Linked DNA regions of Homo sapiens. The protein of the gene in region 3 purifies or fractionates together with the protein of the main gene of each other region. This does not show direct contact. Each region holds a gene or a part of one and is shown on either strand. Other genes may lie near its edges.

Region 1 (3,652 bases), on a different chromosome or scaffold from region 3:
GGAAACTGCAGCACCTGAGTTAAGGGTGAGGCCAGGATGAGTGGCATCCAAGCAGCCAGTGGCCGTTGAAGCAGCAGCTTCGATCCTCGCAAAGTCCTGCAGCCATCCTCACTCACCTTTTCTTTTTAACCATTCTAATATGTTTTTATATAAGTTTTCTGGGAGGCCAAGGCAAGTGGATCACTTGAACCCAGTAGTTTGAGACCGGCCCTGGCAACATAGGGAGACCTCGCCTCTATAAAAATTTTTTTTAAATTAGCCAGATGTGGTGGTGCATGCCTGTGGTCCCAGCTACTAGGGGGAGGATTCCTTGAGCCCAGTAGGTCCAGGCTGCAGTGAGCTATGGTCGCACCACCACGCTCCAGACTGGGCAACAGAGTGAGACCCTGTCTCAACAACAAAAGTTTCCTGTGTTGTAATTCATTAAAATTCTCACATTCTAATAATTTGATGGATTTCTAGATACATATGTTGTACACATTGAAGTCTAATTATGAGTTTGGAAATGAGACATTAAGAAAGATTTTAGAGGCAGCAAGAAAATTCCACCCTCTGGAAGCTGAGTAGGCGCTGGCCCTGAGATGGAGATTAGTGTGCTTTGCAGAGCACAGTTCTCAGGTGTGCTTGGGGAGCTTACCCTTTGCCCCTCGTTCACTCACGCAGATCCTGCTCCTTAAATGTGGTGACTACATTCGCATTAATAAAGAATAACATCTCAAAGCAAATTCTTCAGATAATACCTATTTTTGAGTGGGTAACAGCAAGTGTTGTCGCTCAAGCTTAGAGTAAGAAAAGTCTCTTGAATGTTCCATTTCATGTTGTTCGAACTTTTTAAAATCATTCTGTTCCCTTTTTATTCATTATATCTTTAATTAGAAAAATGATAGGCTGGGCGTGGTGGCTCATGCCTGTATTCCCAGCACTTTGGGAGGCCAAGGTGGGCGGATCACTTGAGGTTCAACACCAGCCTGGCCAACGTGGCAAAACCCCATCTCTACTAAACACAAAAAAAATTAGCTGGGCGTGGTAGCACGTGCCTGTAATGCCAGTTACCCAGGAGGCTAAGGTGGGAGAATTGCTTGAACCTAGGAGGTGGAGGTTGCAGTGAGCCAAGATCATGCCACTACACTCCAGCCCGTGCGACAGAGTGAGACACCATCTCAATATAAAAAGAGAAATGATAAATACATGTCATTTTAAATTTTAAAGTAGAATTTTTTGGGGGGGTAGCAAATAACTATTTGTTGCAGTGTTATGATTCTGATTTCTTTCGATTCTTAGGAAAGTGGAGAATGAGGACATGAATAAAGACCAGATCTTGCTGGAAAAAGAAGCTGAGGTAAGTAGGAAAGTACTATTGGTTGGTTGGTTGGTTGGTTGTTTTGTTTGTTTTGAGACAGAGTTTTGCACCATTGCCCAGGCTGGAGTGCAGTGGCGTGATCTCGGCTCACTGCAACCTCTGCCTCCCGGGTTCAAGTGATTCTCCTGCCTCAGCCTCCCGAGTAGCTGGGACTACAGGTGCCCGCCACCATGCCTGGCTAGTTGTTTTTGTATTTTTAGTAGAGACGGGGTTTCATCATGTTGGCCAGGCTGGTCTCGAACTCCTAACCTCAGGTGATCTGCCCACCTTGGCCTCCCAAAGTGCTGGGATTACAGGTGTGAGCCACCGTGCCCAGCCAAAAAGTACTATTCTTGTGACTGAAGGTGTTTTGTTTACATCCGTAGATATCATTGGTAATTAACTTAAAGTTTATAGTTTTTTTTTTAATTTGTTGAGGAGGATACATATAACTACTTTATTACTATATATACACATCTATATATAATAATAAACATGGATATTTACATAGCATACATGATGCTTCATATATTTAGCTGAAAGACTTTGGAGACAATTTAGTAATGTCACTGATATTTGTAAGTAGATCATAAATATGGAAATATGCTCTGTTGTAAAGGTGGCATTCAGATCTGCTGGAGTTTTGGAAGGCAAACACATTATTCAGTAAACAATAGGATCATAATGGGCTAGCCTTTTGGAAACAAAAAGAAAATACTTCTTTGGTCAAATTAATTCAATATTGATCAAATATTTAAATGTTAAAAATAACCACAAAGTCACCTGAAGAAAATTTAAATGTTTTATAATACTTTCCTGGAGGCATTTCTGAACACATACAAATCATAATGATAAGGATAAAGATGAATTAACATTTACTATTTTTGGCCAGGCACTGTGGGTTACACTTATAGTCCCAGCACTTTAGGAGGCCAAGGTGGGAGAATCACTTCATGCCAGGAGTTTAAGACCAGCTAGGGCAACAGAGTGAGACCCCCCTCGTTCTCTAGAAAAAAATTAAAAAATAATTAGCCATGCATGTCGGCATGCACCTGTAGTCCCAGCTACTCGGGAGGCTGAGGCAGAAGGATCCCCTGAGCCCAGGAGTTCAAGGATGCAGTGAGCTATGATTGTGCCACTGCAGTCTAGCCTAGGTGAAAGAGCAAGATCCCATCCCTTTAAAAAAAAAAAAATATATATATATGTATATGTATGTATATATATTATTTTTATTGTGAGGCCTTCATTGCCCTCCAGAAAAGCTGATTCATTCCCATTCCCCTTTACTTTGCATTTCTCACTGTCATCAGTCTCTTTCCCTCCTTTTAGGTTAGAAAACTTCTCATATTGGCCGGGCGCGGTGGCTCACGCTTGTAATCCCAGCACTTTGGGAGGCGGAGGCGGGTGGATCACGAGGTCAGGAGTTTGAGACCAGCCTGACCAATGTGGTGAAACCCCGTCTCTACTGAAAATACAAAAATCAGCTGGGCGTGGTGGTGTGTGCCTGTAATCCCAGCTACTCAGGAGGCTGAGGCAGGAGAATCGCTTGAACCCGGGAGGCGGAGGTAGCAGTGAGCCGAGATTGCGCCACTGCACTCCAGCCTAGGAGACAGAGTGAGACTCTGTCTTAAGAAAATTTATCATATTGTCTTATCTTTCTTTGGTTATTGTTTCTGTTTGGCTTGCATATTCGTATCATTTACTTGATTTTCTCTTTAGCTGTTGCTTTTTTTATTGATTGGTAAAAAGTCTTTATGTAATAACTCCTGTCATATTTTGGGAAGGTGTAGAAGTTGAAATTTTAGGAATCACAGAACACCCAGAAATAATGTTCAAAGACAGCAAACCTTGAAAACCTATAATGTGTGTGTGTGTTCACAGCTCCGCCGCATGCAAGAGATGATTGCAAGGATGCAGGCGCAGATGCAGATGCAGATGCAGGGCGGGGATGGCGATGGCGGGGCTCTCGGGCACCACGTGTAAGGTGATGTGCACATATCAAGAAGTCAGAGGTAGGCCCTGTTGTCCCTTAGCCTGGAAGACAGGCAGTTACTAACATTGTGTCAGCTTAAATATGACAGGTTCCTCCTTAAGCCTCATTAATATTTTGCATTTTGAAGTAACTCCATCACTAATCTTAAACAAGGAGAGATTGCTCCTGAAAAACAGAAGCCACTACTTTGCCACCTACTTTCTAGTAAAGATTTTTCATATTTTTGTCTCTTCTTTTTTTTTTAAATAATTTCAACTTTTATTTTATTGGGGTACATTTGCAGGTTATTTTCTAAGCTTGCAAATACCAACATTAGAAGG
Region 2 (3,674 bases), on a different chromosome or scaffold from region 3:
CACAACCTCCACCTCCCGGGTTGAAGTGTCCTGCCTCAGCCTTCCGAGTAGCTGGGATTACAGGCATGCACCACCACACCTGGCTAATTTTGTAATTTTAGTAGAGACAGGGTTTCTCCATGTCGGTTAGGTTGGTCTGGAGCTCCCGACCTCAGGTGATCGGCCCGCCTCGGCCTCCCAGAGTTCTGGGATTATAGGCGTGAGCCACTGCGCCCAGCCCCACCAAAGTTTTATTTTATGCTTAACTACCCTAGGGATCAGGGGCTGGACAGTGGGAAGTACTATGTAAATCTTAATTTATCAGCTATCTTTGGGGGAATAGTCAAGCTAAGAAGATGGTTTTTTTTGCCAGGCACGGTGGCTCATGCCTGTAATCCCAGCACTCTGGGAGGCCGAGGCGGGCGGATCATGAGGTCAAGAGATTGAGACCATCCTGGCCAACATGCTGAAACCCCGTCTCTACTAAAAATACAAAAATTAGCCAGGTGTGGTGTTGGGTGCCTGTAATCCCAGCTACTCGGGAGGCTGAGGCAGGAGAATTGCTTGAACCTGGGAGGCAGAGGTTGCAGTGAGGCGAGATTGTGCCACTGTACTCCAGCCTGGAGACAGAGCGAGACTCTGTCTCAAAAAAAAAAAAAAAAATGCATCTTGTTTGTTTGTTTTGAGACGGAGTCTCACTCTGTCACCTAGGCTGGAGAGTGGTGGTGCCATCACGGCTCACTGCAACCTCTGCCTCCCAGGTTCAAGTAATTCTCCTGCCCCAGCCTCCCGAGTAGCTGGGACTACAGGTGCATGCCACCACGCTCGGCTAATTTTTGTATTTTTTAGTAGAGACAAGGTTTCACTATTTGGTCAGGCTGGTCTCCAACTCCTGACCTCAGGTGATCTGCCTGCTTTGGCCTCCCAAAGTGCTGGGATTACAGGCATGAGCCACTGGGCCTGGCCAAAAAATGCATCTTTAGATGATACAATTCATTCATTCAACAAATAGTTCTGAGCTCCTATTATGTGTCAGCTTCTGCACCTGAGGGGCTAGGGACAAAATGATGAATAAGACAGGCATGGTTTCTGCCTATTAACATCCAGTGGGGGCCACTCAATACTCAAATGAACAAATATGTAATAAAAAACTTTAGGCTGGGTGTGGTGGCTCACGCCTGTAATCCCAGCACTCTGGGAGGCCGAGGCGGGTGGATCACCTGAGGTCAGGAGTTCAAGACCAGCCTGGCCAACATGGTGAAACCCCATCTCTACTAAAAATACAAAAACTAGCCGGGCAAGGTGGCGGGCGCCTGTAGTCCCAGCTACTTGGGAGGCTGAGGCAGGAGAATTGCTTGAACCCAGAGGGCGGAGGTTGCAGTGAGCCAAGATTGTGCCACTGCACTCCAGCCTGGGCGAGAGGGCAAGACTCTGTCTCAAAAAAAAAGCACTTTATTTGGGAGATTCCAGGAAACATTAGTAGAGGCAGAGGAAATGAGAAAGGAGGGAAAATCATGTGGTATTGAGCGGAAAACTGCTGGATGACAGGGCTCAGTCCTGTTGGAGAACTCTGGGTGGTGCTGTAGAACAGGGCCACTCACAGTGGGGTGCACAGACCAGCACGGCTCTGTGACCTGTTTGTTACAGGTCCATGATGAGGTAAACAATACACTGAGTATAAGGGTTGGTTTAGAAACTCTTACAGCAATTTGACAAAGTAATCTTCTGTGCAGTGAATCTAAGAAAAAAATTGGGGCTGTATTTGTATGTTCCTTTTTTTCATTTCATGTTCTGAGTTACCTATTTTTATTGCATTTTACAAAAGCATCCTTCCATGAAGGACCGGAAGTTAAAAACAAAGCAGGTCCTTTATCACAGCACTGTCGTAGAACACAGTTCAGAGTTATCCACCCAAGGAGCCAGGGAGCTGGGCTAAACCAAAGAATTTTGCTTTTGGTTAATCATCAGGTACTTGAGTTGGAATTGTTTTAATCCCATCATTACCAGGCTGGAGGTGAGGTTAGTGGTGCAGGAGTTGCTGAGGCAGGTGGAAATCTTGTAATAAATGCCTAAAAATGTTTTAAGCAATTTGACTGGGCTCTGGAAAGCATTTTGTGATTCTGAACTAAAAGATGGACAAGTAAATTTTATCAATTAAGAACAAACACCCAGAGACTATTTCTCTTATCCAGAATTTATGACAAGGTCCTGTTGTTCTTATTATCAGTGATACTTATAATATGGTTTCTTGGGATGAGTAATGGAGTTTACTCCAAGAAACTCAAAGCATTTCATACATTATTTCTGTGATAAATCAGGAAATATGTGAATAATTATTTTATGAATATGTATTACCTAAAGTTCATTAGTTCACATTTTATTTTTGCATTCAGAAAATCTAATTCTTTACCCATCCTAACCTTTTAGCAAGCAATTTTGTAGTCACCCTCAGGCAAGCAATAGTGTAGCTATACTCTGGAAACCCTTCACTTCTTGAAGAAGGAAAAAGTCTTCCTGATTGAAAATTGGTGGCTGGGTGAGGTGGCTCACGCCTATGATCCCAGCACTTTTGGAGACCAACATGGGTGGATTGCTTGATCCCAGGAGTTCAAGAACAGCCTGGGCAACATAGTGAGACCTCATCTTTACAAAAAATAAACAAAATTAGCCTGGTATGGTGGCAGGCACCTGTGGTCCTAGCTACTCTGGAGGCTGAGGTAGAAGGATTGCCTGAGTGTAGGAGGTCGAGGCTGCAGTGAGCTGAGATCACACCACTGCACTCCAGCCTGGGTGATAGAGTGACACCCTGTCTCAAAAAAGAAAAAAAAAATTGGAAAGATCTGAGATGGTGTTAGTTTCAGTTGCCTGTGCTGCTCTCATTCCCTCTTTAGTACTAACATTCTGGATGTGTGTGTGTGTTGTATTTATTTTTTAGGACAGTTTATTCTGCGTTGTAGCAGCATTTGGCTGTTTCTACTACTGAATGAATCTTTGAAAAGCTGGTAAAAGACATGACCATGAAGAAATCTGAACTTTTTAATATTGTTAAATATCTTGACAAAATAAAGATGTTAGTAGTTTGACAACTGAATCTGTTGTGTTTTAGGCCTTATATTTTTAATGTTTTGATTTTGTTACACTATGTTCTGTTTCTTTCTTTCCTTCCTTCTTTCTTTCCTTCCTTCCTCTCTCTCTCTCTGTCTCTCTCTCTCTCTCCCTCTCTCTCTCTTTCTCTCTTTCTTTCTTTTTTTTTTTGAGACAGAGTCTCTCTCTGTCGCCCAGGCTGGAGTGCAGTGGCACAATCTCGGCCCACTGCAACCTCCGCCTCTTGGGTTCAAGTGATTCTTCTGCCTCAGCCTCCCAAGTAGCTGGGACTACAGGCAAGTGCCACCACGCTTGGCTAATTTTTGTATTTTTACTAGAGACGGGGTTTCACCATATTGGCCAGACTGGTCTCAAACTCCTGACCTCATGATCCATCCATTTCAGCCTCCCAAAGTGTTGGGATTACAGGTGTGAACTACTGCGCCCGGCCCTACTATATTCTTGTTACACTGGAACACAGAGAAAAAAGTAGGGGAAAAGCCATTTCAATTGTTCAAACATAACCAATGGTAAAAATTTTGGTATATTTTCTACCAATGTTTTTTATTTCCAAGGTTTAAAAAACATATAATTTTGTACCCTCATTTTTC
Region 3 (3,652 bases):
CCATAAAATGAGGAAGGGGAGAAAGCAACAAAAAGCATCAACGTTCAGCATCTCCAAATGCTGGGAAAACGGAAGATAAACCTTTAAGATTCCTGCAGGGGCTCCTGCAAGAGGGGCCTCCCCATACCGGGCAGCGGGCACTCTACAGTGTGTCGTCTCTTCTAATCCTCCCCACGACAGTGGCAGCAGGTAGGCAGGATTCTCACCCCTGTTTTCCAGGTGGGGGGACTCCAGTTCAAAGAGCTCCAATGAATTGCCTAAGGCCATGGTTGTCAAGCTAGCAGGCATCCCAACCACCTGGAGGGCTCTACGCCCAGAACCATCATTTAGTGGGGCTGGGGCAAAGCCCAAGAGTTTGCATTTCTCTAACAAGTTCCCAGGTGATGCTGATGTTGTAGGCTGTGGGAGGACCACTGGCTTAAGGTTACCCAGCTACTTAGTGTCAAAGATGGAATTCCGACATACTTCACTGGACTTGGGTAATGTCATTTTCTTTTTTCTCTCTCTCTTTTTTTCCCCTCCGCGAGACAGAGCAAGAGCTCTGTCACCCAGGCTGAGTACAGTGGTGCGATCATGACTCGCTGCAGCCTTGACCTCCTGGGCTCAGGTGATCCTCCCGCCTCAGCCTCCCATGTAGCTGGGACTACAGGCACACCCCACCAAACCTGGGTAAATTTTTAAAAAGTTTTTTGTAGAAGGTCAGGCGTGGTGGCTCACGTAGCACTTTGGGAGGCCAAGGTGGGCAGATCACTTGAGGTCAGGAATTCAAGACCAGCCTGGCCAACATGGTGAAACCCCATCTCTACTAAAAATACAAAAATTAGCCAGGCTTGGTGGCAGGTGCCTGTAATCCCAGCTACTTGGGAGGCTGAGGCAGGAGATCTGCCTGAACTTGGGAGGCAGAAGTTGCAGATCGCCTCACTGCACTCCAGCCTGGGTGATAAAGTGAGACTCCATTAAGAAAAAAAAAAAGTTTTGTACAGATGGGGTCTCACTATGTTGCCCAAGCTGGTTGCAAACTCCTGGGCTCGAGTGATCCTCCTGTCTCAGCCTCCCAAAGTGTTGGGATTATAGGTGTGAGCAACCACACCCAGCCAGTTAATGTCAATTTCTGTCACAAACTCAATTTGTTGGCTTTCCAGAACCTTCTGAATAAGAAAATTTCAAAATGGGACAAAGCAGCCTGGATTCCAGCTCCAGGGATCTGGCCCTGTAAGGAGGAATGTCCACCATTAAATCACAGCAAGTCCAAGTCCTTGGAGGTGAGCCTGAGTGCCTCCCGTTTCACTGAAGAGGTAACTGGAGAAGTGGTATTGTTGCATTTAGGGCTTGATGATTTGGAGTAAAAGACACTGATGTTACCGATTGTGCCTATTTTTATCAGTGGCTTGTTAATTATTTGTTTTCATTAGTGATTTTTATATATGCAGATTTACCCACTTAATCAAACTGCAAACATTGATCAAGGCTTCTTTGTGTCCAGGTCTGGGCCACCCACTTCTCACACGGCACCTCAGTGAATCCTCGAGTCACTCTGAGAACACGGAGCCTCAGAGAGTTAAAGGGCTTGCCCAATCCAGGGTAAATCCACAGGTGGAGTGGGGACAGGGACCTGGGTTTGACCCCATACTCTGAACTGCCCTGGTCTGCTGCCCCCTGCTGAGCATGAGCGAAATGGCAGGACCTCAGCCAAGTCACTTTGTGGCTGTTCAGAGCCAAGCCTAAAGCTTGGTTCTTCCCACGAAGATGGGCTGTTGCAACAGGGAAGAAACAGAAATGAAGTGACTAACAGTTTCATGGCTAACCAATCTGCATACATAAAAATCACTAATGAAAACAGAAATAATTAACAAGCCACTGATAAAAATAGGCACAATCGGTAACATCAGTGTCTTTTACTCCAAATCATCAAGCCCTAAATGCAACAATACCACTTCAGGTGCTTTGTGAGAGGTAGTGTGTGTTGAAGGTTGTGTAGGCTGAGTTAGTTACCTCAGCTTTAATACTAGTGAAGTTAATAAGTGAAAACTAGAAGTCTGTTTTTTTTGTTTTGTTTTTTGAGACTGGGTCTCGCTGTTGCCCAGGCTGGAGTGCAGTGGCGTGATCATGGCTCACTGCAGCCTCAACTGCCCAGGCTCAAGCGATCCTCCTGCCTCAGCCTCCCGAGTAGCTGGGAATACTGGTGCCACCATGTCCAGCTAACAAAAGTTTGTGTTAAAATGTCTTGGCCGGGCATGGTGGCTCACGCATATAATCCCAGCACTTTGGGAGGCTGAGGTGGGAGAATCGCTTGAGCCTAGGAGTTTGACACCAGCCTGGGCAACATAGTGAAACCCTGTCTCTACCAAAAAAAAAAAAAAAAAAAAAAATGCTGGGTGTGGCGACACATGCCTGTGGTCCCAGCAGTATACTAGGGAGGCTGAGGCTGCAGAGAGCCATGATCGCACCACTGCACTCCAGCCTGGGCAACAGAGCTAGACCCTGTCTCAAAAAAAAAAAAAAAAAAAAGCCTGTTCACGTGGGCGGTTCTGGGCCAGGGTGGGGTGAATGTGGCACACATGTGGAGAGCCACACTGTCTGGAACACCTGCTGCTGTCTGCAGCCTGGGAAGCAGTACCTCAGCTGGATGGGGTCAGGTCAGGCAGGTGGGAAGGCATGGATCTCCCTCCCGGGCCAGGCTGCTCCAGGCTGCCCACGATGTGTAGGGTGCTAACTACAGTCTCAAACGGGCACTTCCAGCAGCAGCCAGGCCTGCTCTACGCCTGTGGCCACCCCTGGGTCCTGTGTTCTGTAGCCATCCTGAGGCAATTCAGCGCCAGGGCCTCCTAGGCTCTGCGTGGTGGCTCCTGACCACAGGAGTTCTGGCACCAAAACCCAATTATTTTTTCTTGGCCACATAAAAGTGGGTATGTCAAAGTGTCAAATCACTGGTTTTCATCCTAAAACTATGCCCCACAGACATCCCTGACCCCGTCCCCACTGCTGACCCCACTTCTGACCCATATCAGTGGGGTGTCAGCAGTGGAGGGAGGTTTACAGAGTCATTCATTTATTTAATCAATGGATATTTGCTAGATGCTTACTATGTGCTTACAAGCCCCTGCCCTCATAGAACTTACTCTCAAGTGGAGTAGATGGCCTTAAAAATGCAGGTAAGCATTTGGTGACGAGGAAGGACTTGAGTGGCAGCAGTGAGGCTGAGCCAAAGAAGCATGCTCTGTAAGACAAGCTCAGCGCGCCACCGTCCTCCAGCACAGCGCCGCATGTGTGTGGGAGAGAGACAGTGTGACTTGAGAGCACGGGCGCCCCCTGCAGTGCTGCCAAGGTGAGGGACTGGCCACCTCATCCTCCTCCACTGACAAGGTTGTGGGATCTCCAGGCCTGTGAACCCCAAGGAGAACCCCCTACTTGGGAGCTGCCCATTCTGGACTCAAGCACCAACCACAGTCATGGGCTCTGAATGCCTGTGGGTCTTCAGGGCCAAATTGGAGACGCTGCCGCTGCCAAGTTGAGACCTGAATGGCCAGGAGCTTTCAGATGACACTGTCCTTCCAGAGGAGACATTCTCAGGAGCTTTATGCCAAGGGACACTGTCTGTGGAGAATTTGTCTGATTTGGAGACCAAGTAATTTGCTCCCTTCCCCCATACCCT

Evidence for each region.
Region 1: the proteins of DYNLRB1 (region 3) and SEPTIN2 fractionate together in Homo sapiens (co-fractionation; one large-scale study listed by BioGRID). This does not show direct contact.
Region 2: the proteins of DYNLRB1 (region 3) and DYNLT2B purify together in Homo sapiens (affinity purification with mass spectrometry; one large-scale study listed by BioGRID and IntAct). This does not show direct contact.

What each region holds. Positions count from the first base shown.
Region 1 is NC_000002.12:241,346,853-241,350,504, forward strand, and holds part of SEPTIN2 (septin-2), read left to right. Parts: intron 1-1,281; coding exon 1,282-1,339; intron 1,340-3,220; coding exon 3,221-3,322; 3' UTR 3,323-3,351; intron 3,352-3,652.
Region 2 is NC_000003.12:196,290,615-196,294,288, reverse strand, and holds the end of DYNLT2B (dynein light chain Tctex-type protein 2B), read left to right. Parts: intron 1-2,914; coding exon 2,915-2,962; coding exon of another isoform or gene 2,963-2,985; 3' UTR 2,986-3,070; downstream 3,071-3,674. UniProt on the Homo sapiens protein: Acts as one of several non-catalytic accessory components of the cytoplasmic dynein 2 complex (dynein-2 complex), a motor protein complex that drives the movement of cargos along microtubules within cilia and flagella in concert with the intraflagellar transport (IFT) system.
Region 3 is NC_000020.11:34,536,842-34,540,493, reverse strand, and holds part of DYNLRB1 (dynein light chain roadblock-type 1), read right to left. Parts: intron 61-3,652; coding exon of another isoform or gene 38-60; exon of another isoform or gene 2-37; intron 1-1. UniProt on the Homo sapiens protein: Acts as one of several non-catalytic accessory components of the cytoplasmic dynein 1 complex that are thought to be involved in linking dynein to cargos and to adapter proteins that regulate dynein function.